Regions from separate parts of the Homo sapiens genome. Here regions 1, 3, 4, 5, 6 and 7 are each linked to region 2. Evidence: fine-mapped expression QTL. A gene starts in region 2. Each other region holds a variant in brackets. All regions are shown on one strand. Distances are from middle to middle.

Region 1 (4,462 bases), 26 kb after region 2:
TTTTTCTTTTGTTGCCTGTGTTTTTTATATCATATTTAAGACATCATTGCCTAATCAAAGGCCACAAAGATTTATGCCTAGGTTTTCTTCTAAGAGTTTTATAGTTTTAGCACTTATGTGTAGGTCCTTGATCCGTTTTCAGCTGATGTTGTGTATGGTGTGAGGTAGAGTTCCAACTTCATTCCTTTGCATGTGGATATCCAATTGTCTTAACACCAGTTGTGGAAGACATCATTTCCCCATCAAGTGGACTTAGCACTCATTGAAAATCAGTTGGCAGCCAGGTGCGGTGGCTCACACCTGTAGTCCCAGCACTTTGGAGGCTGAGGTGGATGGATCACTTGAGGTCAGGAGTTCGAGACCAGCCTGGCCAACGTGGTGAAACCCCATCTCTACTAAAAATACAAAAATTATTCAGGCATGGTGGCAGGTACCTGTAGTCCCAGCTACCTGGGAGGCTGACGCAGTAGAGTCGCTTGAACCCGGGAGGCAGAGGTTGCAGTGAGCCAAGATCGCATCATTGCACTCCAGCCTGGGTGATAGAGTGATACTCTGTCTAAAAAAAAAAAAAAAAAAGAAACAAAAAAAATCAGTTGGCCACAGATGTGGGGTTTATTTCTGGACTCTCAATTCTATTCCATTGATGTATGTCCATCCCATGTCTGTACCATCCACCATCTTGTTTTGATTGCTGTAGCTGTGTACTAAGTTTTGAATTGAGAAGTGTGGGTCCCTCAACTTTGTTCTTTTTCAAGACTCAGGGTCTCTTGCAATTCCATATTAATGTTAGGATCAGCATGTCAATTTCTGCAAAAAAAAATCATTTGAAATTTTGATGGGTATTGCATGAGTTTGTAGAACACTGGGCAGTATTGTCTTCTTAACACTATTACATTGTCCAGTCCCTAGCTTTAGGATGTCTTTTTGTTTATTTAAGTTCTTTTTAATTTCTTTCAACCATCTTTTGTAGTTTTCAGAGTGCAGTTTTATCTTTTTGTTGTTGTTGTTGTTTTTGAGATGGAGTTTCACTCTTGTTGCCCAGGCTAGAGTACAATGGCATGATCTTGGCTCACCACAACCTCCGCCTCCTGGGTTTAAGCAGTTCTCCAGCCTGAGTAGCTGGGATTACATGCGTGTGCCACCACGTCCGACTAATTTTTTTTGTATTTTTTTAGTAGAGATGGGGTTTCTCCATGTTCGTCAGGCTGGTCTCGAACTCCCGACCTCAGGTGATCCGCCCACCTCAGCCTTCCAAAGTGCTGGGATTACAGGCGTGAGCCACTGCGCCTGGCCTTATCTTTTTTTATATTTTTCCTTCCAGTACTTACAGGACGTAGAAAAGTTTTACCGTTTTTTAAAAAGTGTATTCCAAAGTATTTTATTCTTTTTGGTGCTATTGTAAGTGGAATTGCTTTCTTTTTTGTTTGTTTTCTTTTGGGAATGTTCAGTGTTTGTCTGTGAAAATGCAAGGGATTTTGTGTATTGACCTTGTATCCTGCGGTTTTGCCTAACTAGTTTATTAGCTCTTACATTTTTGTTGTGGATTTCTTAGATTTTCTATGTACAGTCACACATCACTTAACAACGGTAATACATTCCAAAGGAGTCCATTGCTGTGTGAGCAAAGTGCGCTTACACACACTAGACAGTGGATCCAGCTGCAGGCCTGGGCTGTGTGGCACAGCCTGTTGCTCCCAGGCTGCTCGCCCAATCAGTACATGCCTGTGCTGAAGACAGTGGCAACTGTAACACCATGGTGAGTGTTCATGCATCCAAACATTAAGAAGGTGCGGTGAAAATACAGCGTTATCATCTTCAGGGTCCGCCGTCCTATATGCAGCCAGCCTTTCAGCATCCAAACATTAAAAACGTACGGTGAAAGTGCAGTGTTACCATCTTCAGGGTCCGCATTATCTTAAGGCTCCACCGTCCCCCATGCGGCCAGCCTTTCACCAGTGTCTTTTGTGGTACATCACTGTGCAAGATGCTGTCATCTGTGATTTCGGGTAGTTTTACTTTTTCCTTTGTGAGTAAAGATAGTTGTACTTTCCCTGTCCAGTCTGGATGCCCTTTGCTTCCTTTTGTTGTTGTTGTTGTTGACTAATTGCCCTGGCTAGAAGTTCTAATACGATGTTGACAAAAAGTGCCGTGAGTGGGAATCCTGGTCTCATTCCTGATCTTGAGGAGAAAGCATCCCTGTTTTCACCATCCTGTATGATGTT[A/C]GCTGTGGGTTTCATACGTGGCCTTTATCATGTTGAAGAAGTTCCCTTCTATGCCCAGTTTATTGATTTTTTTTTAATCATGAACAACATATTTTTGAAGTGCTGTGCCTTGGAAATGTTAAAGGAAAAATGTTATAATTTACTTGCATCTGGAAAAAGAGAAGTCTTGGCCGGGGGTAAAATGATGAAATCACAATAAAAAACGTAAGAACCGTGGGTCACTTCTGCACGGGCCATCGCGCAGTGTCCGTTGAGATGCACGTCCAGGAGGAGTCCTGCTGGATATCAGGGCTGGGCCGAGTGGCGCTCTGTGAGGGACAGGAGGCAGCCGGATGAGGAACAGTGCCCACATCCGTCCTTGGACATGAGACGGAGGAAAATGTTCTTGTACGGTTAGGTCAAAGCATGGTAATTATGGCAATGATTTAGCCAATTGATTGATATTTGTTCACTTCACACGATCTGTTTCTTTGGTTCTAGAAGAGTGTTGATAATTCCATTTGTCCCAAAGATAAGACTGATTTGTCAACAACCAAAATAACTGGTGTATGTGCATTTTGGTAAACTTTTTTCACTGAAGAGCCCATATTGAACTTTTTTTTAAATTTGTCAGTTATGTGTTGCATATATTTTAGATTCAAATAATTCTCAGGAATTATTATTAAAAACAGCAATGTTCTGCCCATCACTCCAGTCACACACCCTCCAGCTCTGCAGTGGCTGCTCCTGGGTAAAACCACCCCCCCTTTCAGAGTCACGCACTTACACTGTTGCTTCCTGTTTTCTTCTTCTTTTTCTTTCTTTTTTGGCAGGGAGGGAAGGGATTAAATCTTATGTATTGACTTTGGAAACTAAGGATTTTGGTTTTTTTTAGCAGCTTCCCCCACCATGGATGCACATTTTTTACAACCCCCGTCCTTCCAATATGATTTTTTCAAAATGTTTGTACATCAGTATTGTTTACATGTTTATGTCTCCGTAAACACCGTTTCTTGCTGAGTCACATAACACACGATTATTCCGTTTTGTGAAACCTTTAGTGGAGTGAGCAGAGCTTTAGTAGAGTTAATAGTTTTCTTGGATTTTTACATTTTCTTCTAAATACTTAATAGTACTAATTTCTCCCCTCACCTCCCTGTCCTTGTTCTATGGTCAGACACATTCAGGGTCAATGAGCTTCATCTTCCGTGGCCTCTTCCAGACTGTTCCACCCCCAGCATGGGCCGCCCCCAAGTCCTTGCCGTAACTCCCGGTCTCACCTCTCCCGGGGGCTTCCTTTGCTGTCCTGGGCCTCAGTCTTTTCATTTCTTGGGTTTGCTTCCATTTTGTTGAAATGCGTTCGTTAGTAACTTCCTGAAAAATGGTTTTTGGGAGATAAATATTTTAGAGATCTTGAAGGTCAAGTATACCTTAATTCTTGTACTTAAAAGTTTTTCGGGGTGTAGGATTCTGGGCTAATAACTGTCTTTCACACTGGAAGTCTTTAACATCCAGTGTCGCTGTGAGAAGGCAGTTGCCATCATTCTCGATTCCTGTGGCTATGAGCAGTTTTCCTCCCTTAGGACAGTTTGAGGTTCTGCTTCTGGCCTTCATGTGGGTGCAGCCTGATGCTGAGGTCTTGAGCATGGTCTGTTTTCATCTGTCGTGGCCTCCGTAGTCTGGGAACATGTGCCACTCTCTTGTTTCCTTGATCGTTTCCTCCTCTTTGCTTTCAATCTTCGGTTTACAGAATTCCTGTCATTCAGACATTGAGTCTCCCAATAGATCCCCTTTTTCTTACATCTTCTCCCGGATTTTTTATGGTTTAGTGATTTGAGACCACTTTCTGGGAGATTTTCTCAAATTTCATCTTCCACCCTTCCGGCTGCACCCTTCGTTTTTGTCACTGCGTCTCAGAGTTGGAGCGGGAAGGAGGAGAAGAAGGGTCTCTCACACTCTCTATGGACAGGCTCTCCCTCCCTGTTTATCTTATGGAGTCTTTGCCTTCAGTTATGGTGCCTGGGGCTCCTGGGAGCCAGGCCTGGCCTTTGCAGAGAGTGAGTCCCGGTCTCCCACGGGTGGTGGGGAGGCTTCCACAGCCTGCCTGCCCCCCTTTTTCTCCCCACTTCCAGGCTCCTTGGCGGCCCCTCTGGAGCAGATCTCGTGTCTGCTGTGTCTCGGCTGCCATTCTAGGATTCAGCATCCCGTCTACTTTTCACTTTCCAACACTGTATTTTTTTCATCTGTCCTTCATTTGTCCT
Region 2 (4,000 bases):
GGGCCCCCTCATCTCCCCACCTCTCAAAGGCCAGAGCCCCTCGGGGCTTATTCCTTGGACCACTTTCTAAAGTTCACGCCTGCTCCCTTCATGACCTCATATGCTTACTCATCTTATGAGCACCTCAAACTTGACCTGTCTAAAACTGCACACTACCACCAAACGAAGATCCCCAGAAGGCTCTCCACCTCCTCAGTGCAACTCCAGCCTTCCAGTTTCCAAACGAAAAATTTACAGCCATTCTACATTTCTCCTTTTCTGTCACAGCCCAGTTTGATCAATCGGAAAATCTCTTTGGCTTTACCTTAAAACATGTCCACAATCCAACTAGCCCCCCCACCCAGAACCTCCAGTGCCACCACTTGGATGTGAGCTGTCAGCATCTCTTATTGCAGCAGATGAAATCTCCACACTTCCTTCCATGCAACTCTAGTCATCACAACGCTAAATGACTTCTTTAAAATGTACATCAGGCCATGCACAGTGGCTCATGCATGTAATCCCACACATTGGGAGGCTGAGGTGGGAGGATTGCTGGAGGCCAGGAGCTGGAGGCTGTAGTGAGCTGTGATGGCACCACTGCACTCCAGCCTGGGCCAGAGTGAGACCCTGTCTACCCCAAAAAGAAAGAAAATGCATCAGATCATTTCACCCCTTTGCTCTACATCGTGTAACAACTTTCCACCCTGCTTCTTGGAACATGCAAAGTTATCAGGCTCCCTGCAGACCCTGCCTGGGTCTGGGTCTCCTTTCCTCCTGATCTGAGCTCCCCTTATCCTGCCCTTGCTTCTGGTCCCCAAACTCAAACAGGGCAGCCGTTCTCCTGGGACATCGTTTCCCTCCTGTGGGCTCTCTTTCCCTGGGCACCCCCAGTCTTGCTCCCTCACCTACCTCAAGCCCGCGCCCATCACTCTACAGTTAGGCCCTACCAGCTTCATTTTCCTCCAAAACACCCATCTCCGTGGGTTCCTCTCCTGAGACAGCCCACATGAGGAACAGCGCCTGGCACACACCTGGGAAATGTTTTGGAAGAAACGAATTCAAGGAGGAGGGTCCTGAGGGGGTGGAGCGGGAGGGCAGAGGCCCTTGGAGCTGGACAGGGAGACAAGAAGGGGTCTGGCAAGCCGGGGTGACGTGGGGGCCGCTGCCCTGACCACTCCCTGTGTCCCACAGGTGCCTGGGGGCCAGGGACACCGCCCTGGCCATGCCCTGTGTCCAGCAGGTGCCTGGGGGTTGGGGTCACCGCCCTGGCCACTCATGTGTCCAGCAGGTGTCTGGGGACCGGCTGGCCATTCCCTGTATCCTGTAGGTGCCTGGGGGCCAGGGACACCGCCCTGGCCATTCCTTGTATCCTGCAGGTGCCTGGGGGCCGGGGACACCGCCCTGCCCACTCCTTGTATCCAGCAGGTGCCTAGGGGCTAGGGGTCACCGCCCTGGCCACTCCCTATATCCTCCAGGTGCCTGGGGGCTGGGGTCACAGCCAGGGCCACTATCCGTGTCTCGCAGGTGCCCGGGGACCGGGGACACCGCCCTAGCCACTCCCTGTATCCTGCAGGTGCCTTGGGGCCGGGGGCACTGCCCTGGCCATTCCCTGTGTCCGGCGGGTGCCTGGGGGCGAAGCGGGGACTGGGGATCCGCAGGTGCACCCGTGGGGTTGGGGGTGGGCGCCTCTCCTCTGGGGCCCTCCGTTCCCCTCTTCTCCACAACGCCCTCCCTAGCGTTCGCCCCCAGAGTTCCGCCACCGCGTAGAGCAGTCGCCGCCAGCGCTCTCACAGCGTCCTCAGGTCCCCAAGAGCCCGCACCGCCGCCCCCGCAGCCCTCCCTCCGCGCATGCTCCACAGCGGGGCTCCCAGAGGCGGGTCTGGAGCCTCGCGACACGCCTACAGACTCGATATCAGCCAATCTACGGCCGTGATGTAGTTGACTGACCGCCCGTGGCGGGGTCCCGTATTCGGATTGGGCATTCCTGCTGTTGTGGGCGGACCCAGGAGGGCGGAACCCGGAAGGCACGGCGCTCAGCTCAGGACCGCGCGCCGTGGTCTGAGGTCCGCGGCAGGGTCCCGCATGGCGGCGCACAGGAAGCACGGTAGGTGGGTGCGGTGCGGAGGCCTGCCCAGACCCCAGACCCGGCTCTCGGCTCAGACCGCGGTGTTGACTCGGGACCCCGACCCCGGCCCCTTTCCAGGCCCCACCCCAAACCCAGACCGACTCCCCACCTCCACCCCAGTCCCTACCCATCCCCCGCTCTTACCCCGGACCGCGGCCCACCCCTCGCCCGTGTTGTTGCTTGCATGGCTGCTGGTCGGGCCGGCCCTGCCAGGCCCCACCTGGTGTCTGGGGTCCTGGGCGGAGGCGAGCCCAGCCAGGGATTCGTGTTCTTAGCAGAGCCCCTGTTGGTGAGTGAGTAGGAGCCGCTCAGCTCTTCAGAGGGGTCCTAGCCCAGGGCTCCGGGGTGGGGCTGCAGCCGGCTCCGGCAGCCTCACCGAAAAGTACAGCAGAACCTCCCAGAGCCACTGTGTCCTCATCTGAGAGACGGAGGTCATGGTGTTTACCTTCAGTGGACCTAAGGTGTGGGGCGCATCCTAGTGCTTATTAAATTCTGTGATAGCATTAGTACCAAAGACAGGAGGAGAATAAATAGAATTGGTTAACCTGGCCGTGCCTTAGAACGGAAGTGTTAGAAAATAAAGCGTGCTCCTGCTTCCTGCAAACCCCAGCTCATTACCCTCACCGTGTAATCATCATCATAATGAAAAGAGTGGCGGTTTTTGACATGAATCTCGTGTTACTTGGATTAATTCAGGCGCTGATGAATTTTTTTCCTTCTCTATGTTTAAAACTGATAATCATGTTTTTCCCTTTGAAATGAAAAGATAATGGCAAACTATAGTTATAAAACAATTGCTTAAAAAGAAAAAATTTCTCAGTGAGGCAGAATGTGGAGAAAAATATGGTCTCAAGTCTTCCTTTTCAGGGACACACTGCACGTGGGCTTCCCCCTCTCCTTCAGGACCAGGGAATTGTCACCTGATCAGCTCACAGGTTAAAAATGACCTAAGAGTTTTTAAGCAGTCACATGCTAGGCTCTAAAATGGACATTCACGTATGTTAATGAGCACCAGAAATACCTTGTTCATGACCCTCTCCTGGAAGCAGGGCTGGCAGGCTGTGAATTCAGTGTCGAGGTTCTTAGGAGCAGACCTGACGGTCAGCTGCCTGCAAAGCTGTGCCTGCCTTCTTGGTGGGGGGCTTCTTGCTACTGCAGGTTTTCTCCTTGTTTTAAACCACAACACACTCTTCTCTTACATTCCTTCAAATGTTTGCACTCTTCTAAGCCTGGAATAAATGCTCTTCTCTATGCAAGAAATTATTATAGCATCTGTAATGTACCTAATCAACTTAAAAAAAAAACCTTTCTCCATTCACCAAATTAAAGTGAATGAAAGCTGTTAATTGTTTTAGTCATTCACTAATCACCTTCCCTCGAAACAGCCTTTTTTTCCTATTGGATATGTGACAGAATGGTCAAGTAAATTTACGTTGTTTAAGGACATTGTGGTTGGAAGGATAGATTAATAAATCCCAAAAGTTTATAAAATGTAGGTGGGAAAGAAAATATTAGTTTTCTGTGTGTCTTCCTCAAGATCACCTGAAGAGCCCATCGGCTGAGTGGCACTTAGGCTCTGAGAGGCACTGAAGGGAGGATTTAGCTGGAATAAAACTTCCCAGCATTTGTGACCTGATGGAGCAGGAAACTGGAGTGTGTGTCTTCTTCAGAGCATTTCCCTTCTGCGTGGCTTGCAACGAGTGAAGTTAGGGGAAGGTGCCGCAGGAGGAGGGGATGGAGCTTGGCGTGTCCCCTTGCAGGGATGTCTGTTTTCCCAAGGTCCAGCTCAGGGTCATGGGGTGGTTGCAGGTGGGGGTTGGGCGCTGTTGTTGATGGTGGGAGAGGAGGCAGGTGCCACAAGACGCAGGTGTGCCTCTCCTGGAGCAGACCCCA
Region 3 (4,462 bases), 93 kb after region 2:
CATAAGCAGGCGGAGAGAGCTCGCCCTGCCACCTGGGGCTTGTGTGTCAGCAGCTCCAGAGAGGAATTGGGATGTGAAAAGTTCAGCCAAAATAGAAAGAATTAACATTTTTGCTATAAAAAAGGAGCATCTGCTGCCTTTTCATGAGGACCTTCTCCATAGGGGTCCTTTGATTAGGCGGCATTCCACTCAGTTTCTCGGTTATCTCCCAGTTCTGCCACTGACTGCTTCCATGTCTCAGGCAAGTATTTCAGCCCCCTGAGTTTCTTCCTCTGTGAAGTGGGGATGACAGCTGTGTGGTACAAAATGAGCCACTCCCCATCAGGGCTTGGGACATGTCACGGGCACACACAGGGCATGTGTGCGGCAGCTTTTAGGGAGCATTATTCTTCTTTGTCTCTTGAGAATCTTACCTGGAAACACAAGCTCAGGAAATAAGAAACTTAATTAAGGCCAGGAGGCTAGTGAACAACAGAGCTGGTTCTGAAAAACCGGCTGCCTCTGAATCCAGGGTGCTTGGTGTGTCTGCTCACTGGATTCGTGGCTGCCTGTGAATCCAGGGTGCTCGGTCATGTGTGCTAACTGGATTGGTGGCTGCCTCTGAATCCAGGGTGCTTGGTTGTGTCTGCTAACTGGATTCGTGGCTGGCTGTGAATCCAGGGTGCTTGGTCGTGTCTGCTAACTGGATTGGTGGCTGCCTGTGAATCCAGGGTGCTTGGTCGTGTCTGCTAACTGGATTGGTGGCTGCCTCTGAATCCAGGGTGCTTGGTCGTGTCTGCTAACTGGGTTGGCGGCTGCTTCTGAATCCAGGGTTCTCGGTCGTGTCTGCTAACTGGATTGGTGGCTGATGACAGACCGGCTCTTTGATATTTTGTGGTTTGCCCAGAGTGACAGCCCAGAGGCTCAGAATTCTTAGTTCAAAGTGCTTTTCAAATCATCTCCTCATTTATTTCTCTATCACTTCTTCTAGGAAGATATTTCATCCTGATGGTATACATTGATATGTATACCTTGATATGCAGCCTGGGAAGAATAAGCAGCATGACCTGGGGTCACAGATGCTCTGCGATGGGATGAGTGGGAACACAGCTGACCCTGGGGTCACAAGGACCTCAGTGATGGGATGAGTGGGAACACAGCCTGCACTTCAGACCCAGATCCAAGTGTCTTTATCTGAGTAGAAAAAGCAGAATCCAAGACCCGGGCTTTGGGCATTTCCAGCTTCCCCAGATGGGGAAAAGCCAGTGCCAGGTGGCCACGCTGGGGACATTCATGACCTCAGCAGCATGGACCGTGGTCTTCAGTGAGGCCTGCTTGAGAGACGGCTTCCGTTGCAGTGTTGTGGGCAGGTGGGGCGGTGGTGACTGGTAGGGGGGCAGTTGTGAAATGTACCTGGAAAGATAGGCGTTTATGGGTTCAAAACTGTCTTGTCAGGAGGGAACCAAGTGTGGGTCAGAACAAGGCCACGGAGGCAGCGTCCACTGAGCAGCGATTGCGCACAAGGGCAGCGGGTGACTGCCGTGGCCTTGCTCTCGATGACGACAGGCCGGGGTCAAAATGAGTCTTCTGGGTCAATGCTGACGCAACGAAAGGGTGGAATGGCTTCAGGGATAACCACGTTCAGGTGGGTTAGACACACCTCCTGTGGGAGGAGTGATTGCAATTAGCTATCATAAGGCAGGAGACACAACAGCAACTTAAATTATCCACAAGCAGAATCATGAGCTGTTTGCAAAGGGAGTTTCCATCGCAAGACAGTTTCACTGTATTTAAGCGAGATCCTGCCCTCGTACACGATCACAGCTCAGTGGACGCCACCTCCGTGGCCTTGTTCTGACCCACACTCAGTTCCCTCCTGACAAGACAGTTTTGAACCCACGAACCTTCCCAGGTGCATTTCATCAACTGCCCTCCTTTCAGGCACGACCGGCCCACCTGCCCACCGCACTGTAACGGAAGCTGTATCTCAAGCAGGCCTCCTCTCCGAAGAACATGGCCCGTGCTGGCTGAGGGTCTGAACGTGCCCAAGCGTGGCTGTCTGGTGCTGAGCTTCCCATCGAGCCCCAGGAATGTTGGAACTAGCCCAAAGCCCTGTAAGCAAGGTCTTAGGACACTGGGAGGCTCTGAAATCACAGATGTAAGTAAAAGATAAGAAACGCCAAGGCAAGGGCCAGGCGCCCCACACGTGGTAGGAGCTTCTGCAGGATGCTGGGCCCTTCCTCAGCAGGTGCTTTGCCTGGGTTGTGCTCCCGCAGCCTGACTGCTGCCCCAGGTCACCGATGTAAA[T/A]GACTCAGGACCTCCTAGAGAACAGGCTTCTGTGTAAAGTCATTATTTTGCTTCCTCACCAAATCCTGCCCCTGCAAAGCAGTCCACAGAACTTAGTGGCTTGTTAAAGGTGCATCTGTTGAATCAAAGTCCTCAGCAGAAAGCCTGGCCCCTGCATTTTGTTCGGCTGCCTGCAGTGGCCAGAGCAGGCTACATGTTGAGAGCAGGACCCTGGCTGCTGTGCTCTCGCACGGCTGGTGACTACAGCGGGGTCTGGACGTCAGGCAAGCACTGTTTGACTCCCGGCTGCTCCACTCCCCAACTGAGCAGCCGTGGCTTCTGTGGTAGGAACTGCCAGATGCCCCCCAGCTTTCCTCCTGCTCCCAGGCACACGGTGGGGCTGTGTTGCCCTACCCCACTAGGTTCTGTGGCCCTGTGAGGTCATCCTCACAGCTGAGCACCCCACACAGCTTCCCTGCCCTCTTCTTTTGAATTCAGCATCTGCAGTGGCCATGAGCAGAGCCAGACAGCAGGAGCTGGGCCCTGGACGACTCCACGGGAGAAACAGCCACAACAGGCATGTGGGGCTCTGATTGTAGGCGAGCCGGCTCTGCAGGGATACAGAAATCCACCCCAGGAGTGGCGAGCTGCCCTAGCAAAACCCCAAGCACGTGGTGAGGATGGAATGCTGGGCAGCATGAGAGGAGACACATGGGGCTAGAGGAACGTGTAGCCCAGGAGCCGCAGAATCAGGCACAGCTGTGGCTTTTACCCACTCAGGCCACTGAGGTCCCAGGGTGGCAGCTCTGGGAAGCAGCTAGGAATGCAGGATGCCGGGGACGAGGCTGTTGGTTGCAGAACCCCACCGGGTGTTTCACAGAATGAGTGTGGCCAGATCCAGCCTGTTTCCAGCAGGGCTGACACAACTACAGCCCCGATGGGCCCAGAGAAGCCACAGTGGCTGCAGAGAGAAGAGAGAAGCAGAAACGTGTCGTTAGCCTTCAGGCAACAGGAAGCAGCCCTGGTGTGGTCACTGCACAAGGAACAGGCTTGGTGAGCTGGTTTGGACGCCTTCGGTGCGTTTGCAATCTGGCTTAAAGTCCTGAACCAACCCTCCGACCCTGCAGAAAGTGGACTGTGCAGGCTGGGAAATGCTGAGAAGGAAGTCCTGAACCAACCCTCCGACCCTGCAGAAAGTGGGCTGTGCAGGCTGGGAAATGCTCAGAAGGTGACTCCCAACACGTGGCCTGGAAGTCATGGAGGATTCTGGACGGGAGGGCAGAGCCCAGAGCATCCCTCCTGGCCCCTCAGGGGAGCACGTCTGGGGCCTCATCAGGGAGCTGCCTGCCGAGGCCAGGTCTGCACCGTTCCTCCCCAGAGGTCACAGTGTCGGAGGCTGCACAGCCACTGCAGCAGCGACCCTTTATTTGGACTGCGCTTTTGTTGTAGGTGTCCTGTCTGCTGTTGTGCATTTGGTGGGACAGTGCTGAGGGTTTGGTGGACAGGGCTGAGGGTAAGTGGAGGGCTTGTGCTCAGTGCACAGGCCTCCGTCCGTGAGGAGACTCTGTTGGGCCCACGTGGGGCAGAACCCAGGCAGATGCCCCGATTCTGAGCTAAAGTCGGGAGAGGAAGGCACTCTGGGCCGTCTCCTTTGGGAACAGCTAAGAGTATTTTCTATGAGGGAGGAACGATGAAAAGGCATCCCGTGACCAGAAGGACAGTCTCTAGCAGAAACCATCAATGATTTCCACACATCCGAGGCCTTGGCTCCCTGGTTGTGGCTGCACCTAGTTCCCAGTTGACGTGCAACCCCACGTGGCCACGCAGCTGAGCTTCAGGGAGGCTGTGAACGCCCAGCTCGGCTCAGGGCCATGGAGGTGGTTGGGGCGCAGGGATTCAGCTCGGCCCAGGGCAGTGGAGGTGGCCGGGGCGCAGGGATTCAGCCGCCTTAGAGCGCGCCAGACATTAGCCCCAGGCTGAGTGTTTTCCACAGAGAATGCTATTAACAGGATCCCAGCTTTTGCCTCTCTGAGAGATGGCATGAAGGAGCCCACAGCCTCGTTGCACCAGGTGGCCCTGGCAAGGTGCAGCTTTGGGCTGTTTCTGCCGAGGCGGAGGCCTTCTCGCCCTGGTTGAACGGCTCGCAGGATGAGGAATCACCGCACCTGCCGCGTAAGAGCCGCTTGCAAGTTAAATG
Region 4 (4,462 bases), 77 kb after region 2:
AAGGACGATCCGGATGTTAAAATCACTGGGTCAGATATTTTGGGGAAGGGGAGAGTCCCGAAGCCTCACCTTACCCCACAGGTGACTTGCAGATTTCGAAGGGGAGGAGCAGCTTTGCAGGGGGGATCCAGCTGCTGGCACTGAGCACCCAGACGGGAGGCTTGTAGGGGAAAACAGAAAAAGAAGGAACCGGGGGAGTTTAGAAGATGCTGTGGGGATGAGGGGCATGTCCCTCGAGGACCGTGCCAGCAGCGAGGCCATTCGGAGAAGACCTGGGAATGGCTGTGGTCACAGGCAGTTCAGACCTGGCGGGCAGGTCTACAGCCTGATTTGGGGAAGTCTTGAGGCCATGAGTCTGCAGGCACAGAGACAGCCCTGCAGCAGCATCTGCGGAGGCTGAAGAGGGAGCCCCTGGTGTCCACCTGGGCAGGGGGAGGGACCTGTTGCGATTGGGTGTAACTGCGAGAACAGCATAGTGGATGGGCGGTCTCTGCACCTGCGTGTGTGGAGGGAAAAGTAAGACAGGAAAGGATGTGTCATGAAAAACGTGGTCGTGAGTTAAAAATGAGGCACATACAACAATAGAAATTCTGCAGGAATGTATTTAAATAATACACTGTCTACCGTGTGTGACTGTGCATGAGAGAGGAGTGGAATGGAAGTGGGGCACAGAGGAAGGAAAGAAGGAAGGAAGGAAGGAAGGAAGGAAGGAAGGAAGGAAGGAAGGAATGCAGAGGACAGAATGAATACAGATAAGGAGTGAGCAAGCCAGAGAAAAGGCCACACATGCCCCCAGAATGATCCCCCGTGATGAAGGTTGCTGCGTGATCCACTCGGCCCCTGGGTCCCAGCAACTGACCACAGCAAAGAAGAAAAGAGGAGCTCCTGCAAGGGCAGGTGCTGGTGCACCATCGTCCAGAACACGAAACGCACACGTAGGTAAGAACGTAAGTCTATGTGAGAGACGGGCAAACAAAAACGAGTGAGACTCCTATTACATACGCTCCTGGGTGTGCTGACGTACAGAAATCCTCTCTGCAGGCTTAATTACTATCTGCCGTGTTGGATTTGCTTACAACCTGCCTGTGGCATGAGGGCGTCTGAGCGTAAGAGTGAAAGAGAATTTTAGAATAAGTTGGACAGCGTCTGTCTCCTGTCTAGAGACAGCCAAGTCCTTGCTGTTAGAAAGGCGAAGCTGAAGAACAAAATCAAACGCGGCTGCTCTTCCTAGTCCCTTGGGGCCGACTTGGCGTGGGCTTGGCCTGAGGTCCCGTCGTGCATCTGGGCTCGGCAGAGACCACTCGGGGTTGGTTTTCCTTTTTGTTGTTCTCCACGGCTTTCTGTAGTGAGCTGGGCTGAAGGGAATTTGTTACTAAAGATAATTAAAGTGCCCAAGTGAGCACCAGGGCGCAACTCCCCAGGGGGCTGGCGTCCAGCCTGAGAGGATTTGGTCACCGCAAGCAAAGCCATTGTGACCCGCTGTCTCCAGCTTGGCAGGTGTTCCCGCCTCAGGTTCCTGCTGGGGGGACAGCAGCTACTCGGGGGGTCCTCTCCTGGGGCAAACCCATGGTGTATCTACCTGCACTGCCACCATGGACACCACTGCCTGCCCCTCCCAGCAACGGGGACACTGTGGTGTCAGCCCAAGTCCTTGTGGGGACATCTCCATGGCAGCCTGGGGGGGATGTCACTGTGGTGGCCTCGGGGACGTCACCTAAGCCATCTCTGGTAGACAGTGGGAGGTTCCTTTCCATCTTTCCCTTCAGTGTGTGTCTTTACATAGTTGCCAATATGGATCCATAATTTTTTAATTTATTTAAAACTGTAGTCAATGTTTTTTGATGTAT[G/A]GCATACATATAGAAAAGTACATAAAACATAATGTCACAGCTCCTTGAATTCTCACAAAATGCCGAGACCCCTGTAACCCACACCCAGATCAGGAAACAGCCCTCCCCAGCACCGTAGCCCCTCGAGGAGGCCCCGTCCCAGCTCTGCCCCTCCAGTCCCTCCAGGTTTTCTCTTACCAAGCCTCTGAAGGAGCTTCCTGGCCATCCATCCTAATGGTAGCACAATATGCTAGTAAGTTAACGGGCCTCAATTAACTTAGCTATTCCTTTATTTGTGAACGGTTACGTTGCCTTAGGATGAACAGGGTCTTAAAGCCTTTGGCGTATTTTGCATTATTTTCTTATTTAGATTGAAAGAACTGGGGCTTTTGAGGCAAAGTCTACTATACTTTAAAAAATACATTTGTATTGTGATACACATACTGTAAAATTTACATTTTAAAATGTAGAGTTCCCAAACCTAAACTCTGTCCCCATCAGACAGGAACTCCGCAACCCCTCCCTGCACCTGGCAGCCACCAGCCATCCTACTTTCTGTCTCTGTGGCTCCGACTTCTCCAGGGACCTCTGCTCAGTGCCACCCTGCGGGATTTGTCCTTCTGTGACCAGCTCATTTCACCCAGCATAACATCCTCAGGGTTTCTCGTGTTATAGCCTGTGTCCAGATTCCCCTGCGCGCATGTGGCAGCCACCAACCATCCTACTTTCTGTCTCTGTGGCTCCAACCCCTCCGGAGACCTCTCCTCAGTGCCACCCTGCGGGATTCGTCCTTCTGTGACCGGCTCATTTCACCCAGCATAACATCCTCAGGGTTCCTCGTGTTATAGCCTGTGTCCAGACTCCCTTCTTTTTTAAGGCTGGATCATATTCCATTTGTTAAAAGAAACACTTCAACTGAATTAAATTTAAAGGAGTTTAATTGAGCAATGAATGATTCATGAATCGGGCAGCGCCAGAATCACAGCAGATTCAGAGAGACTCCAGGGATTCCTCGTGGTCAGAACAAATATATAGACAAAAAAAAGGGGAAGTGATATATAAAACTCGGCAGTGAGGTACAGAACAGCTGGATTGGTTCCAGGTTGGCATTTGCCTTATTGGAACAGTTTGAACACTCGGCAGTCTACGCATGGTTGACGTATGGCTGCTGGGATTGGTCAAGACTCGGCCACTATTACAGGCGCAGACTCCTGAATTAGGTTTTCAGTCCTGTCTGCTATTAAGGTAGGTTATAGTTCGTCCACAAGGACTCAAACATAGACGTCCTGGCATTCTTCTCAGGCCACATTTAGTTCGTGTTAGCACATGGCACTGTGTTTGTCCATTGATCTGTAGATGGACATGGTGCTGTTTTCACCTTTTGGCTGTTAGAATAATGTTACTCTGTACATGGGTGTACAAGCACCTGTTGAGTTCCAGCTTTCAGTTTGGGGGTTTATGCCCAGAAGTGGAAGGGCTGGATCATACGGTAATTAAATCTGGGTTTCATTTTCTGAGGAATTTCTACCCCGTCTTCCACAATGGCTGTACCGTTTTTCATTCCCAGCAACAGCACATGAGTGTGCTCATTCCTCCTCATCCTCTCCAGCACTTATTTCTCGTTTGTAAAAATATATGATAATCATCCTGATGGTTATGAAGCAGCACCTCGTGGTTTTGATTTGCATTTCCTTGCTGATTAGTGGTGCCGGACATCTTTTTGCGTGCGTGTTGACCTTTGTCTATCTTCTTAGGAGAATTTCCATTCCGGTCCCGTGCCTACTTTTGGGTTGTTTTGTTTATCACAGTTTTTATAAACCAGTTCTACATCAGATGAGCTGTGTGCCCCTGGTCTCTCCAAGTAGCTTAAATTCTCTGAGCCTGAGGCATCTCCTAGGAATGAAGACACCCTGTAAGCTCAACACCATTATTCATGCCTAAGACAACTACACCAATTCCCCAGCTTTTGAATGACCATAGGAATTATCAGCAGAACAGGACACTTTGGAAAGTGAATGAGGTGGGATTAATAATTATGCGGAAACAGCAGGTGTGAGCCAGAACCATCCCAGGCAAGCTCGTGGTCACTTTATGTGATATCAACTCCACTCCGTTCCTATCTAGATTTCCCCACTGTCCCCAGCACATCTTTCCAACCAGCAGCCAACAACGGTCGGGCTCTGCATTTGGTTGCGAGCCTGTGTTGTCTCATTTATCTCTGTCCACTGCTTCCCTAAAGGTGGTGACTCTGACGGGGCCAGGCCCCAGTCTTGCTCTTGTAGAACAGCTTCTCCCTCCATCACGTAACCTTTCCTCCTGCTGGCTGCATTTCCTGCCACCGGAAGTAAGGTCTTCAGGCGTCGGATTCAGAGGGCACGTGGGTGCAGGGTGAGTTCAGGGAAGGCGTCGATGGGGTGGCATGGAGCACCAGGGCAATCGCTTGTCTGAAGAGGTGAGTGCAGAGCCGTCGGTGGTAAACCTATGCAGAGATGCCCCAGCGCCCGCAAACGCTCTGCCTCCAGGTCCCCGGATGCCTCAGCAACTGCCAACGGCCTTTTCCCAAATCAGTGCCTTCATTCGGGTTGCAAAATAGTTGATCTTCTAATTTCACCATTCCTGCCACATTTATTACCAAG
Region 5 (4,462 bases), 61 kb after region 2:
CACAGATGGCACTTGCTTACATCTGCACTACGCTTTGTTGACAGCTGACCTAGGGACACGTGGCTGCCCCAGAACAGAGATACTCACCGTGCGCTGGCTTCCTGGCTTTCTTCTCTTTAATTTTTTTTAATACTGTTTAATTTTTGTGGGTATAGGTGTCTTTTCAATGACGTTACCAGCAGGTTCAGGTTAATGTGGTGGGTTTAGCAGATCCAGATTTAAGCAAGGCATTTGATGGTGTTCTTATGAGCAAGATTGAGAAATATCAGCTATGTAATAATTTGGGAAGTAAGTAACTGATTTTAACAAAGATGCAGAAGTACCATTTTTAATAGATTGATTTCAACACGAAGAGCACTCTAGCCTCTTCCTCTTTAGCGTGTTTCTCAGCAGATTGTATTAACAAATTGAAAACATATATCCAGATGGCACATCAGGAAGACATGGCTAAGACACTGCAAAGTAGACGCAGAATTCAGAAAGATCTCAGTAAACTTTCTATTCTGTGTGTGATCGAGCAGCTTGGGGCAGACCAACAGTCATGCCAGGAGTAACCAGAAAGCCAGGATGGGAAACACCTGTTGAAGGGATCAGGAAGCTACTCAGGAAAACAGCTCATAGAAAGATGGAACTCCTGGAACCCTCACGGGGAGATTATCATGGAAACATCTGCAGCCACTTGTCTTCAGGAATCTGCAAGTCCTGTGTGTGGGCGTTGGGTGAGGGTCTGGGGAAAGGACCTGGTGGAGCCCAGAGAGGCAGAAAAACCAGCCTCACAGGTTGAGAAACCAAAAGCAGAGCCTGGAGCCCAGTGAGCACAGACAGAGCCGGGGCTGGCAGGTTCAGAGGTCGCAGCCTGGAGCCCAGTGAGCACAGACATTAGAGCCGGGGCCGGCAGGTTCAGAGGTCTCAGCCTGGAGCCCAGTGAGCGCAGACATTAGAGCCGGGGCCGGCAGGTTCAGAGGTCTCAGCCTGGAGCCCAGTGAGCGCAGACATTAGAGCCGGGGCGGCAGGTTCAGAGGTCGCAGCCTGGAGCCCAGTGAGCACAGACATTAGGGCCGGGGCCGGCAGGTTCAGAGGTCGGAGCCTGGGGACCAGTGCGCTCAGTGGTCGGAGCAGGGGCCAGCGGGTTCAGAGGTCAGAGCCTGGGGACCAGTGGGCACAGACATTACAGCCAGGGCCGGCAGGTTCAGAGGTCGGAGCCTGGAGCCCAGTGAGCACAGACATTAGAACCGGGGCTGGCACGTTCAGAGGTCGGAGCCTGGGGACCAGTGAGCACAGACATTAGAGCCGGGGCCGGCAGGTTCAGAGGTCTCAGCCTGGAGCCCAGTGAGCACAGACATTAGAGCCGGGGCCGGCAGGTTCAGAGGTCTCAGCCTGGAGCCCAGTGAGCGCAGACATTAGAGCCGGGGCCGGCAGGTTCAGAGGTCGGAGCCTGGGGACCAGCGCGCTCAGTGGTCGGAGCAGGGGCCAGCGGGTTCAGAGGTCAGAGCCTGGGGACCAGTGGGCACAGACATTACAGCCAGGGCCGGCAGGTTCAGAGGTCGGAGCCTGGAGCCCAGTGAGCACAGACATTAGAACCGGGGCTGGCACGTTCAGAGGTCGGAGCCTGGGGACCAGTGAGCACAGACATTAGAGCCGGGGCTGGCAGGTTCAGAGGTCGGAGCCTGGGGACCGGTGGGCTCAGGTGTTGGAGCAGGGGCCGGCAGGTTCAGAGGTCGGAGCCTGGGGACCAGTGGGCTCAGGTGTTGGAGCTGGGGCTGGCAGGTGCAGAGGTTGGAGCCTGGGGGACCGGTGGGCTCAGAGGTTGGAGCAGGGGCCGGCGGGTTCAGAGGTTGGATCCTGGGGACCGGTGGGCTCAGAGGTCGAAGCAGGGGCCAGTGGGTTCAGAGGTCAGAGCCTGGGGACCAGTAAGCTCAGATGTTGGACCTGGGGCCAGGGGGTTCAGAGGTTGGAGCTGGGGCCGGTGGACTCAGAGGTCAGAGAACAGAACTCAACACTGCATGGCTTCCCTTAGAACCTTTGCCCAATTCTGAAGCTGTGGGTGGAAGATGAGAAGCCACACAGAGAGCCTCCGAATAACATAGGAGCCTCTTGGCCATCTTGAGGTGCTGATGAGATGAGGATCGGCCTGACCCTCGAGCCCAGCAGAGCAGGGCAGCCCAGAAGCAGATGACACTGTCCCAAATGTGTGGCCACCCTGGAGTCAGCTCAGTCCCTGCACGGTCC[A/G]GGGGATCCCCCTCTACTCGGTCTGCCTGGCGGAGCAAAGGGTGAGCCCTCTAGAGGAAAATGTCGCCATCCTAGACCTCTGCAGTCTTTCCTATGCGTTCAGCAACAGTTTACCGGGCATGCCACGAGACAGGACCACAGCACCGAAAACCACGAGAAAAAAAGAGCAGTAGAGCCACAGTGGGAGAGGCCGATGTTATCAGATAAGGAGCCTAAAATAAGGGGAAAAAGGAAAAATTGGAGCATTTCGCCAGGTAATTTGAATCTACTAAAATAATCAAATGGAAATTTTAGGCCTGAGAAATATAGTAACTAAAATTCAGGCCTCAAAAGACAGGGAAACAGCAAATGAGAGTTGGTATAAAAGAGAATTAGTGACCAGGAAGACAGGTGAAAGAAAGTCCCCAGAATGCAGAGTGGAGAGAAAACGGGTGGAAAACACAGGAAAGAGCCCGGCAGACATGGAGTGGGAAGTTGTGTCCCTGAAACAGGCCCAGGTGGAGAGGAGAGAGGACGGAGCGGGGGCAGGACGGAGATGTGACATTTGGGAGTTTTACACCATTGTTACAGGACACAGAGTCACAGGTTGAAGAAGTCCTGCCAAGTCCAAGCAGGGTTAACGCCGAAACCACCAGAGGCAAGTGAATTGCAGTCATACTGCTGAACAGCAGCCAGAGAAACAAGACCAGCAGCCAGATCCAGGGGAAGTCGGGGGCTTGTTTTCAGTTCTCCTTGATTTCTTCTAAACAGCCACAGTCTGATTCTTTTTTTAAGCGATGTGATGTGGACATAGAGAGCTTGCTTTCATTGTCTGGTTTAACCTGCTGCTGTTCGTAGCCCTGAGTCGTGTGTTGGACAGGGAAGGCGTCTCACCAGACAGAGGTGTAGACGGGCCAGGGGAGGCGTCCCACCAGACAGACGTGTAGACGGGCCAGGGGAGGCGTCCCACCAGACAGACGTGTAGACGGGCCAGGGGAGGCGTCCCACCAGACAGACGTGTAGACGGGCCAGGGGAGGCGTCCCACCAGACAGACGTGTAGACGGGCCAGGGGAGGCGTCCCACCAGACAGACGTGTAGACGGGCCAGGGGAGGCGTCCCACCAGACAGACGTGTAGACGGGCCAGGGGAGGCGTCTCACCAGACAGACGTGTAGACGGGCCAGGGGAGGCGTCTCACCAGACAGACGTGTAGACGGGCCAGGGGAGGCGTCTCACCAGACAGACGTGTAGACGGGCCAGGGGAGGCGTCCCACCAGACAGACGTGTAGACGGGCCAGGGGAGGCGTCTCACCAGACAGACGTGTAGACGGGCCAGGGGAGGCGTCTCACCAGACAGACGTGTAGACGGGCCAGGGGAGGCGTCTCACCAGACAGACGTGTAGACGGGCCAGGGGAGGCGTCTCACCAGACAGAGGTGTAGACGGGCCAGGGGAGGCGTCTCACCAGACAGAGGTGTAGATGGGCCAGGGGAGGCGTCTCACCAGACAGAGGTGTAGACGGGCCAGGTTTCCACAGTCGTTCATGCAGTGGTATTTTGTGCTGAGCTCTGTTCTGATTCTCTCTTCTGGTAGCTTCTCATCTCCCAGATATGTCATTCTGTGTGGAAGCGTAGGTTTGAGACCTTCCTTAAGAGAGGAAAGCTTATCTTTAGTTTATAGAAATAAAAACAAAACTGTATTTCCAAGCAAAACTGACTTTATGTAGGTGTCTCCAGAGATGCAGCTTCAGCTGCCCTCGCAGATGCCGCTGAGGAGCTGCTGGACCGCCTTGCGTCACACAGCATGCTGCCCTCAGACGTGTCCATCCTGTACCACATGAAAACGCTGCTGCTCCTGCAAGATACTGAGAGATTGAAGCATGCTCTGGAAATGTTCCCAGAACATTGCACGATGCCTCCTGGTAAGTACCGTACGATTTATTCAAGGTCCTGCTTAAGATACTCTCATCGAGGTTTGCCTCTGAAAGACTTACACGCCACCAAAACAGCAATGAGTTGGAAAATATGACACTGCACATATGGCATGGGAGAATAGAGTCCCAGAGAGAAACAGGCTTCCTGCATCTCTGCTTGATATAAAAATATTTCACATAATATATGCAGAAATGCATGTGCAGTCTAAGTTTCCGGACTTGGGAGCTGTCAACTCTTGGAGCCAAATTTTCCTAAGTTTAAATAGAAATGAATTCATTTCTTCCTCTTTTCCTTCTCCTCTACTGCTGTGGTAGATGGTAA
Region 6 (4,462 bases), 71 kb after region 2:
ACCTTCTCCATCCCCTGCAAGTGAATGCACCATTGCAGGGGTGGTGGGTCATGTGTAGCCTTTTCCTGGGTTGCACAGAATCCCTGCCCTTGCAGGGGATGGTGGTTCACATGTGGCCATTTCCTGGGTTCCACAGAATCCCTGTAGGTTCCACAGAATCCCTGCCATTGCAGGGCTGGTGGGTCATGTGTGGCCTTTTCCTGGGTCCCTGTAGGTTCCACAGAATACCTGCCATTGCAGGGGTGGTGGGTCATGTGTGGCCTTTTCCTGGGTTCCACAGAATCCCTGTAGGTTCCACAGAATCCCTGCCACTGCGGGGGGTGGTGGGTCACGTGTGGCCGTTTCCTGGGTTCCACAGAATTCCTGTAGACTCCCTTCTTGCTTCTGTGATCCTGTGGGGCTTTACTTTGCGAAACCTTCTGCATTCACTTTCCTGACCCTGAGAATATTGAGGAATAGAGGTACAGTCGAGCAGGTGGGATGCTCAGGGTTAATTCGTTTTGTGTATCATTCTGATTCCAAAAAGGAAAATGCATCTTCTACAAAACAAAAGCAAATAAATCTTGTCTCTAATATGTCAGCATAGATATGATAATCTGTTTATTCCACTGTGTTTGAAGTTAGATAATAATTAGATCAATTTATCTTCTACAATAGTGCAAAATATTCAGTTCATGTAATTTATTTTCTGTAAACCACGTCAATTAAGACAGGCAGAGAAGGAAACAGTCAGGAGCATGAGGAATTGTCAGGTTGCCAATATTAAGACAGTTGTGCCTAGAAGGAAAAAAACACAGAATATCTGAGCCTGTCAGTACTGCTTGCACCCTGGGACCTCCGCCTGTGTCTGCAGAGCCTGAGAAGAGAGGGCTTGCACAAGCCGGTCTCTAATTTGTTTCCCAGGCCCAGCTGCCGCCAGGCTCCAGGGCAGAACTGTGGTGGGTTCAGGAGACTCCAGGGCCCACAGGGTCAGTTCTGGGCTTTGCTTTTTTGTGCAGCTCTTGCCCCGAGCGCTCTCCAGGTGACATGTCCTCTCATCCCGGGGCTCTTCAGAGAATCGCAGGAATGTGTTCCACCCGCTCCAAAATAAGAAATGTGCATGCATCTGCCCCGCCTCGCACCAATATTGGGTACAGCTTTGAAGGGGTCAGAAATTCCTCAAAACTTATTCAACAGGATACTGTGGTGCAGTGAGTTCCCTACCAGGTTACTTAGGGCTTTGGTCCACTGCGTGAATCCTGAAGGCTGAGAGCGAGCCAAGGTCACAGTGCCTGGCGGAGGAGCAGGTATCCCAGGAACCCGGAGCTAGCCTGAGAACCGCCCAGGACCCAGCGGAGGAGCAGGTATCCCAGGAACCCGGAGCCTGCCCGAGAACCACCCAGGAGAGCAGTCCCATATAGCTCATGGCCGGCAACGAGACAGGGAGCACAGGTGGAAGCAGCTCGAAAGCTGCGGATCTTAGCGCTGTCCTGAGGCTGCCCAGGCAGGCTGTGTCCCAGCCATTCTTTCATCTCTTGCTCCCTCCCAGTTTGGGCCAGGGCCAGGGATGGAGGAAACTGAATTCCAAAATTTTTATTGTAAAAAAAATTAATTTTCTTCTTCTGCATAACAAATGACCACAGGCATAGTGGCTTGAAACGACACCATTTGCCGCCTCGCAGTGTCTTTGGGTGGGGATTCAGTACAGCCCGGGCTGGGACCTCTGTGTGGGGACTCACGGGCCGCCAGCAGAATGCTGTTCGTGTGGCCGCAGGACAGAGGCTCCGTGTCCTTGCTGGCTGATGCTGTGGCCGCTGCCACACCTCAAGGCACCAAGTCCCAGCCCCGTGGCCCCTCCAACCTGGCAGCCGACCTCAGGGTGGCAGAAGAATCTTCTGGTATGGAGAACCTCTTTTTAAAGATGTCATTTGACTCCATCAGGCCTGCCCAGGTAATCTGCCTGTTGTTAAAAGTCAAATATTACAATAACAACTGCCAAGCCTCATCACAGGTGATGGCCCCAGGTGTGTGTGAACATGAGCACATGCTGGAGGGGAGGCCATGACACTGGGCAGGGGCCAGGGGGAGAGTCGGGGAAGGCCCTGCCTTCGGGAGCTCAGCCATGACCCCGGGCAGGGGCCAGGGGGAGAGTCGGGGAAGGCCCTGCCTTCGGGAGCTCAGCCCCACCTCGTTGCCTCAGCACAGGCCTCTGTTCCACTGCAGCTGTATCTGGCACAGTGAGTTGATGAGGGGCTGCCCCCTTCCCTTGGGGGGCTTGAGGCCAGGATCCTTGTAAGGGATTGAATGAGGACACAAAGGAAGGGAGACGGACAGACAGGGAGCA[G/C]CCTGCCAGTGGAAGCCTCGATGGTCACCCCCTCCCCAGGATATTCAGTGCACACTGGAGATCTCGATGGTCACCCCCTCCCCAGGATGGTCAGTGCACACCGGAGATCTCGATGGTCACCCCCTCCCCAGGATGGTCAGTGCACACTGGAGATCTCGATGGTCACCCCCTCCCCAGGATGGTCAGTGCACACCGGAGATCTCGATGGTCACCCCCTCCCCAGGATGGTCAGTGCACACCGGAGATCTCGATGGTCATCCCCTCCCCAGGATGCTCAGTGCACACCGGAGATCTCGATGGTCACCCCCTCCCCAGGATGCTCAGTGCACACCGGAGATCTCGATGGTCACCCCCTCCCCAGGATGCTCAGTGCACACCGGAGATCTCGATGGTCACCCCCTCCCCAGGATGGTCAGTGCACACCGGAGATCTCGATGGTCACCCCCTCCCCAGGATGGTCAGTGCACACCGGAGATCTCGATGGTCACCCCCTCCCCAGGATGCTCAGTGCACACCGGAGATCTCGATGGTCACCCCCTCCCCAGGATGCTCAGTGCACACCGGAGATCTCGATGGTCACCCCCTCCCCAGGATGGTCAGTGCACACCGGAGATCTCGATGGTCACCCCCTCCCCAGGATGGTCAGTGCACACCGGAGATCTCGATGGTCACCCCCTCCCCAGGATGGTCAGTGCACACCGGAGATCTCGATGGTCACCCCCTCCCCAGGATGCTCAGTGCACACCGGAGATCTCGATGGTCACCCCCTCCCCAGGATGCTCAGTGCACCGTGGAGATCTCGATGGTCACCCCCTCCCCAGGATGGTCAGTGCACACCGGAGATCTCGATCGTCACCCCCTCCCCAGGATGCTCAGTGCACACCGGAGATCTCGATGGTCACCCCCTCCCCAGGATGCTCAGTGCACACCGGAGATGTGGGGACCCTACCAAGATGAGATGATGGAGTCCCAGCTCCTGAAATCCAGAGCCTGGTAAGGGCCCCTGGGTCGCAGAGCAAGTGAAGGAAAGGCAGAGGAAGGACGGCCAGGGAGGAATTGGGGAGGAGCCAGCTCGGGCCCCATAGCAGGATAAGCAAAGCCCACAGCCTGGCATCCTCATGTCCTGCAGGTGGAGTCCCCGATCGAGGCCTTGCCCTGAGGCTGTGGACGACACCTTCTCCCTGAGTCCTCTTGTGGCCTTTGTTTGTACCAGGGGCATCTCTAGGGTCTTGTCCTCCTCTTGTCCGATTGGGTCAGGACCGCCCTGATGATCTCATTGAGGCCTGGTCACCTCCCTAAGGTCTTGTCTCCAAATGCAGCCACATCGGGGGCCAGGATCAACATGGACGTGGGCCGCGGATAGTTCAGCCCATGACACAGGAGGAATAATTTGAGGAGAGGAACAGGAGAGAACTGTGCCTCGGGGATGGGATGAGGGGTTTGGGAAGAGGGGTTTGGCCCACAGTGCCAGGTGTTCAGGGAGGTCGAAGCCCCTGCTTTACACTGGACTGGACTCGGGGCCTTGTGTCTCCACCCCCTTCCGGGGCTCTGGCCTGACCACCCCACAGGGCTCACAGTAACCCACCTCCCGGGAGGCCCAGTGGAGGCCAGGCTGGCAGTCTTCTTCCTGCAGGGAACCAGCCTCTCTCCCCAGTCACCTGGGGGCAAATGAGAAGGGGAGGGGCAAGCAAGGGGCCAGGCTGGGCCCTCCTGTTCCTGTGGTGAGGGTGGGTGAGGAAGTCCAGGAACCACAGTCCAGCTGCAGCCGAAGCCCTGGAAGCCAAAGACTGGGGCCCAGCCAGAGGCCACTTGGGCACGAAGAAGGGCAGCAGCAGCCGGAGCTAAGAATGGCCTCTAGAAAGGGGCCGTGCCAGCCTCTCTCTCAAACATGGTCCGTGGGGATCGGGTGGGGCCCCTCCTGGATGCCCCTTGGGGGCTGGTGGGCCCAGCCTTGTATTTGGACATTAAAGGCAAAGGAAACGCCAGCCAGTCAAACCACCTCTGCCATTCTTCCTCTTCTGGGAGTGGCTGGGGTTGAAGGCAGTGCTCGTGTTCATGGCCCTTTCACTACGTCTGATTTGTCGCAGATCCAACAGCATCTGGGATCTTCCTCTGAAAATCCCTCTCATTATCGCAAGG
Region 7 (4,462 bases), 120 kb before region 2:
TCTGGGGGACAAACCTTCAGCCCACCACAGAGAGAATCAACATAAAGAGAAAACTGCCTTGTTTCTGTAATGCCCTGGTTCAGTCCCTAGCAATCAGGGCATGAATACTGAATTCTTATTAAATTAAATGACAAACACATCCTCCAGTGATTTAAAGTAGTTAAGCCTGTGCACGGGGCGGTGTGGCTGCAGGCCTGAGACTGCTCCCTAGAACGGCTGCTTGCGAGGCTGGCCCTGGGCTATATCTGAGAACTTGGATGTCGTGGGGGGTCCCACCATTCCCTAACTGATGAGGGGTGAGTCTGGCCCTGGGCTTCATCTGAGAACTTGGATGTCGTGGGGGATCCCCATCATTCCCTAACTGATGAGGGGCATCCTGTACCTAAGCCATCTGTGCAGATGATGTTTATACCACACACCTGCTCTCCTGCTGGCAGGGCTGTCTATCTGAGCAGACCCCAGCACAACCCTGGGCACCGTGTCTCTCACAAGCTTCCTGTTGGACGACATGCGTGGTCACAGCTTGATACTGGCAGAACCAAGCCCCTCCTGGGACTCTGTGGGGAACAGCTCTGGAAGCTTCCATCTCGTTTCCCTGGACCTCCCTCCTCCACCTTCTCCCTCTGATGACCATGCTCCGCGTCCTTTCTCTGTAACAACTCACAGCTGTCCTGCAGCTGTGCCGAGCCCTGGGAGTGCTCCCAGTGAATCACGGAACTGTGGGTACTCTTGGGGACCCCAACACACACCTAAGTGCAATGTTAGACTCATACTCTAGCACCCAGCTATTATAAACTAAGCACTGAATTTCCTCTTTTGCTCCTAAAGTATCTGTAACTATTTAATGTGTCACTACAAAGCCCACTGCCCCAAAGCAGCCAGTCTGACCCATCTGCGAAGATCCAGCGTCATGCTGCACATAAGAACAGCCAGTTTTACCAAAATCTGTTGCAGAAATAACGGAATCGGCCAGGGGATCCATAAACAAAAACAGCACAAAGGTAAATGAGGTCCTTTTGTGAAGCAACAGTAATTCTACATCAAGGACGTTGTCATTCAGAATGAAACTGTGCTACTTAGATTTCCCAAGGAAACACTCGCCCGAGAATGCACTCAGCCTTGCTGGGTTTGGGTGGATATTTTACCCTTTACAGAAACGTTGAAGTAGCCAAGGTGTTAGCATGACATCTGCGAACATAATCAGTACAAATCCCGTCTACTGGGAACATAACACTCTGTCCGCAATTTATACAAAAGCCCACGAGGCTGAGAGATGTTGATTTGCTCATTTACCACAATCAGACAATCGATTAAGCTGGCAAGAGAAAGAGGAAAATGACCCACAGAATCTTGAGTAAAATCAAGCTAATAATTCATTACAATTTACAGCTGATGAGCAGATAAAAGACGGACAAAAGAATCATGATGGTTTCATTGGATTTGCCATTAGTGTTCTTTCTTCCATCTGGAAAACTGAAGATCACGTGTGAAAAGCCAATCTCAGATTTCAAACAGGAGGCTACTGTGGTTTCATGACAGCTCAGTGGAGACAGGAGGCAGAGCCCCAGGCCTGTGGCCTCCAGATCCACGTGCAGGGAGAGGGGACACGGAAGTCTGTGTCATCCACCAAGACAGAGAAAGGTGAGAGAGACAGATTTCCTATCCCTCAGAGCAATTCTTTAAACTGTTTTTGACATGTTTTTTTTTTAGCTTCCAATGTGTCCCTTCTCAAAATCTCTGCACACACATAAGAGGAAATCAAAATTTACACCAAAGCCAATTCTCACAGCTGGCAGGAGGCTGCATGCCTTTGTTGTCCACAGGGCAGGTGGGAGCTTGGGTTTAGGGGCTGAGTCCCAGGACCGCCGCCCACTAGCTGAGTGCCCTGACCAA[G/C]TCACTGCACCTTCCCAAGACCAGTGTCCTCGCTAATAAGAGAGGAGTAATAATAAAGACAGCTCCAGGTATTAGTGAAGGTGAGAGGGAAACGCAGCGGGGGCCCCCTGCAGCTCCCGCCACCCAGCAGTCACGGAACAGTCACTGCTTCCCAGCTCCGAGTGTGGTTCCTGGCATCTAGCAGGCTGCGGGGCACGTGGCGTGGTCTCCGTGAATCGTGTTAAATGAGGGAGGAAATCTATGCCCCTATCCATAGCCACAAATCACACAAAACTGCATGCTTTCTGGCACTTGATCTGAGCAATTCGGCAGCTGGATAAATAAATGTGACAAGTTTTTTGAACAGAGGCTGAACTGACTAGTCCACAAATCCCAGGAACTAATCTCAGAACGGTGTTTGTAAATGTACACAATAAAATACACAAAAAATTATACTGAAATGATCAAATAGTCTTCATCATAATATACTAACATAGGTGCTTCCTATTAACACATTATTTTAAATTACCTAGTAGCAGGGAAATAGCAGCACCCATTCCAAAGCAGCGATGAGCTTACATGTCGCTCACAGGTAACACAACACTGACGTGATAAGAAAACACAGTCAGTCATACGTCGCTTAGCAATGGGGCTACGTCCTGAGACATGCGTCACCAGGCGACTTTGTCAGGGTGCGAACATCAGACTGTACTCACACACACCTGGATGGTGCGTTCTACCACACCCCTGGGTTGAATGGCACAGCCCACAGCTCCCGGGCTGCACACCTGCACAGTGTGTGACTATACTGAACACCAAAGACAACTGTAACACATGGCACTTGTGCATCTACATACAGAAAAGTCTTCTCTCAACAGCAAACACCTATGGCACAAACAAACAGAAAAATCATATGTTAAAAACATGTTGTTTTGATACAGAGAACTCCATCTGGACAGTGCATCTTTCATCTTTTGCTGCGTCTCTACTTGTTCATCACATAGCTCTGTACATGGCCTCTTTGCAGCATTTTCTAAGGTGTGAATCTTGGCTATTTCAAAAGTGAAAACAGAGAGAGTGAAAGACAATATTTTGTGAGAAAAATTTGTTACCAAACTTTACTAACTTACCTCTGAATTCTTTAAAGTGAAAAAAAAAATTTTAACTATTATTTTAGGAAAATTGAGACAATCACAGTGCATTACAACACTGTGGCATACTTTCAGGATTAGCCTAATAGTAGCCAGATAGTTTCGCAACATTTAAAATTTCATGCTATTATAAAATAATTCTAAAATACATAAAGGCCAATAATGCATATATTGCTTTCTGGGGTCTAATTTTCTTCTAGGTAAAATAAAGCATGCCAACATTTAATTGGGCTATTCAAGCAACAGCCTCATTTCATACACACAGACACACAAATATACATAAACATAGATACATACTCTGACAAATTGTGAAAAGAAGTGTTTCCCTATTCCAAAATATTCTTATTAAGAATTAATTTAAAGCTTTCTGTGAAACAATAAAAACACTTAAAAGCAAATTTGATGATTTTTTTTCTTAAAATACATTGTAAATTGGAAATAAAATTTCTGCACAAAGTGCAGAAATCTTTCAAGAGGCAGCGTAACTTTTAACTTGTAGCAACAGGTGGAAGGTTCAAAAAATTGCTTTGAGATAAACTCCAAAAGCACAATGCATTTAAAAATGTGATAAACTGGACATTATGAAAATTAAAATATTCTATTATTCAAAACACTGTTTTGACACACTGTTAAGAAAATGAAAAGACAACGCAAAGGTGGGGGAGATATATCTGCAAATGTCACATCTGACAGGGGACTCAGACCCAGAATACAGAGGGAAGTCTCAAAACCAAACATTAAAATACAAACAACCTAGTTTTTTTTTTTTTTTTTTTAGACAGTCTCCTTCTGTTGCCCAGGCTGGAGTGCGTGGCACAATCTCAGCTCACTGCAACCTCTGCCTCCCAGGTTCAAGCAATTCTCCTGCCTCAGCCTCCCAAGTAGCTGGAATTACAGGCCCACAGCACCAGGCCCAGCTAATGTTTGTATTTTTAGTAGAGATGGGGTTTCACCATGTTGGCCAGGCTGGTTTGGAACTCCTGGCCCACCTTGGCCTCCCAAAGTGCTGGGATTTCAGGTGTGAGCCACCGTGCCCGGGCAACCTAGCTTTTTTAAGTGAGAAAAAGATTTGAACAGACATTTCATGGAAGAGTAAAGATGGAAAGCAGGCACATGATAAAAGTTCCTATGTCATCAGTTATCAGGGGAAATGCAGTAAAACCTTGAAAGAGATACAACTCTCCACTATTAGGACGGCTGGGAGACCATTAGCCCAGGCTACAGGGGTCCTGGAAGGATGTTGCACCGCTGGAACCTTCGGGCAAGGCTGGTAGAAACCCAAAAGGGCAGTCAGTTTGGAAAGCAGCTTGGCAGCTTCTCATAAAGTTAAACATACACTACCATTGACACAGCCACTCCCATCCCAGGCATCGAACTAAATGCCCAAGTGAAATATGAACCCAATTTCCACAAAAACTCCTGCGCTCAGTATTTACAGT

Evidence for each region. PIP is the estimated chance that this variant, and not a neighbour inherited with it, causes the effect.
Region 1: its variant is the best candidate, but not a certain one, in a credible set for the expression of ERICH1 in whole blood (GTEx, PIP 0.73).
Region 3: its variant is the best candidate, but not a certain one, in a credible set for the expression of ERICH1 in CD4 T cells (CEDAR, PIP 0.85).
Region 4: its variant is the best candidate, but not a certain one, in a credible set for the expression of ERICH1 in amygdala (GTEx, PIP 0.59).
Region 5: its variant is the best candidate, but not a certain one, in a credible set for the expression of ERICH1 in esophagus muscle (GTEx, PIP 0.64).
Region 6: its variant is the best candidate, but not a certain one, in a credible set for the expression of ERICH1 in whole blood (TOPMed, PIP 0.83).
Region 7: its variant is the best candidate, but not a certain one, in a credible set for the expression of ERICH1 in whole blood (TOPMed, PIP 0.54).

Annotation. Positions count from the first base shown.
Region 1 is chr8:703,323-707,784 of GRCh38, reverse strand. The region is part of intron 2 of ERICH1 (glutamate rich 1); the gene reads left to right. Among named protein-coding and RNA genes, the nearest start is that of ERICH1, 26 kb to the left of the region's middle. The variant A/C (reference allele first, on the strand shown) is at 2,223.
Region 2 is chr8:729,226-733,225 of GRCh38, reverse strand. It overlaps ERICH1 (glutamate rich 1), which reads left to right and starts at 2,002. Exons shown (of 6, transcript NM_207332.3): 1 at 2,002-2,086. The coding sequence starts at 2,065.
Region 3 is chr8:635,897-640,358 of GRCh38, reverse strand. It overlaps a transcript of ERICH1 not described here. Among named protein-coding and RNA genes, the nearest start is that of ERICH1, 93 kb to the left of the region's middle. The variant T/A (reference allele first, on the strand shown) is at 2,287.
Region 4 is chr8:651,928-656,389 of GRCh38, reverse strand. It overlaps a transcript of ERICH1 not described here. Among named protein-coding and RNA genes, the nearest start is that of ERICH1, 77 kb to the left of the region's middle. RefSeq lists enhancers at 3,744-4,243, 4,244-4,462. The variant G/A (reference allele first, on the strand shown) is at 1,848.
Region 5 is chr8:668,264-672,725 of GRCh38, reverse strand. ERICH1 (glutamate rich 1) reads left to right here. Exons shown (of 6, transcript NM_207332.3): 5 at 3,934-4,128. Among named protein-coding and RNA genes, the nearest start is that of ERICH1, 61 kb to the left of the region's middle. The variant A/G (reference allele first, on the strand shown) is at 2,230.
Region 6 is chr8:657,784-662,245 of GRCh38, reverse strand. It overlaps LOC124902053, which reads left to right and starts at 2,284. Exons shown (of 1, transcript XM_047422538.1): 1 at 2,284-3,285. The coding sequence starts at 2,284. The coding sequence ends at 3,285. It also overlaps a transcript of ERICH1 not described here. The variant G/C (reference allele first, on the strand shown) is at 2,324.
Region 7 is chr8:849,397-853,858 of GRCh38, reverse strand. All of the region lies in intron 1 of DLGAP2 (DLG associated protein 2), which reads right to left. Among named protein-coding and RNA genes, the nearest start is that of DLGAP2, 110 kb to the right of the region's middle. The variant G/C (reference allele first, on the strand shown) is at 1,894.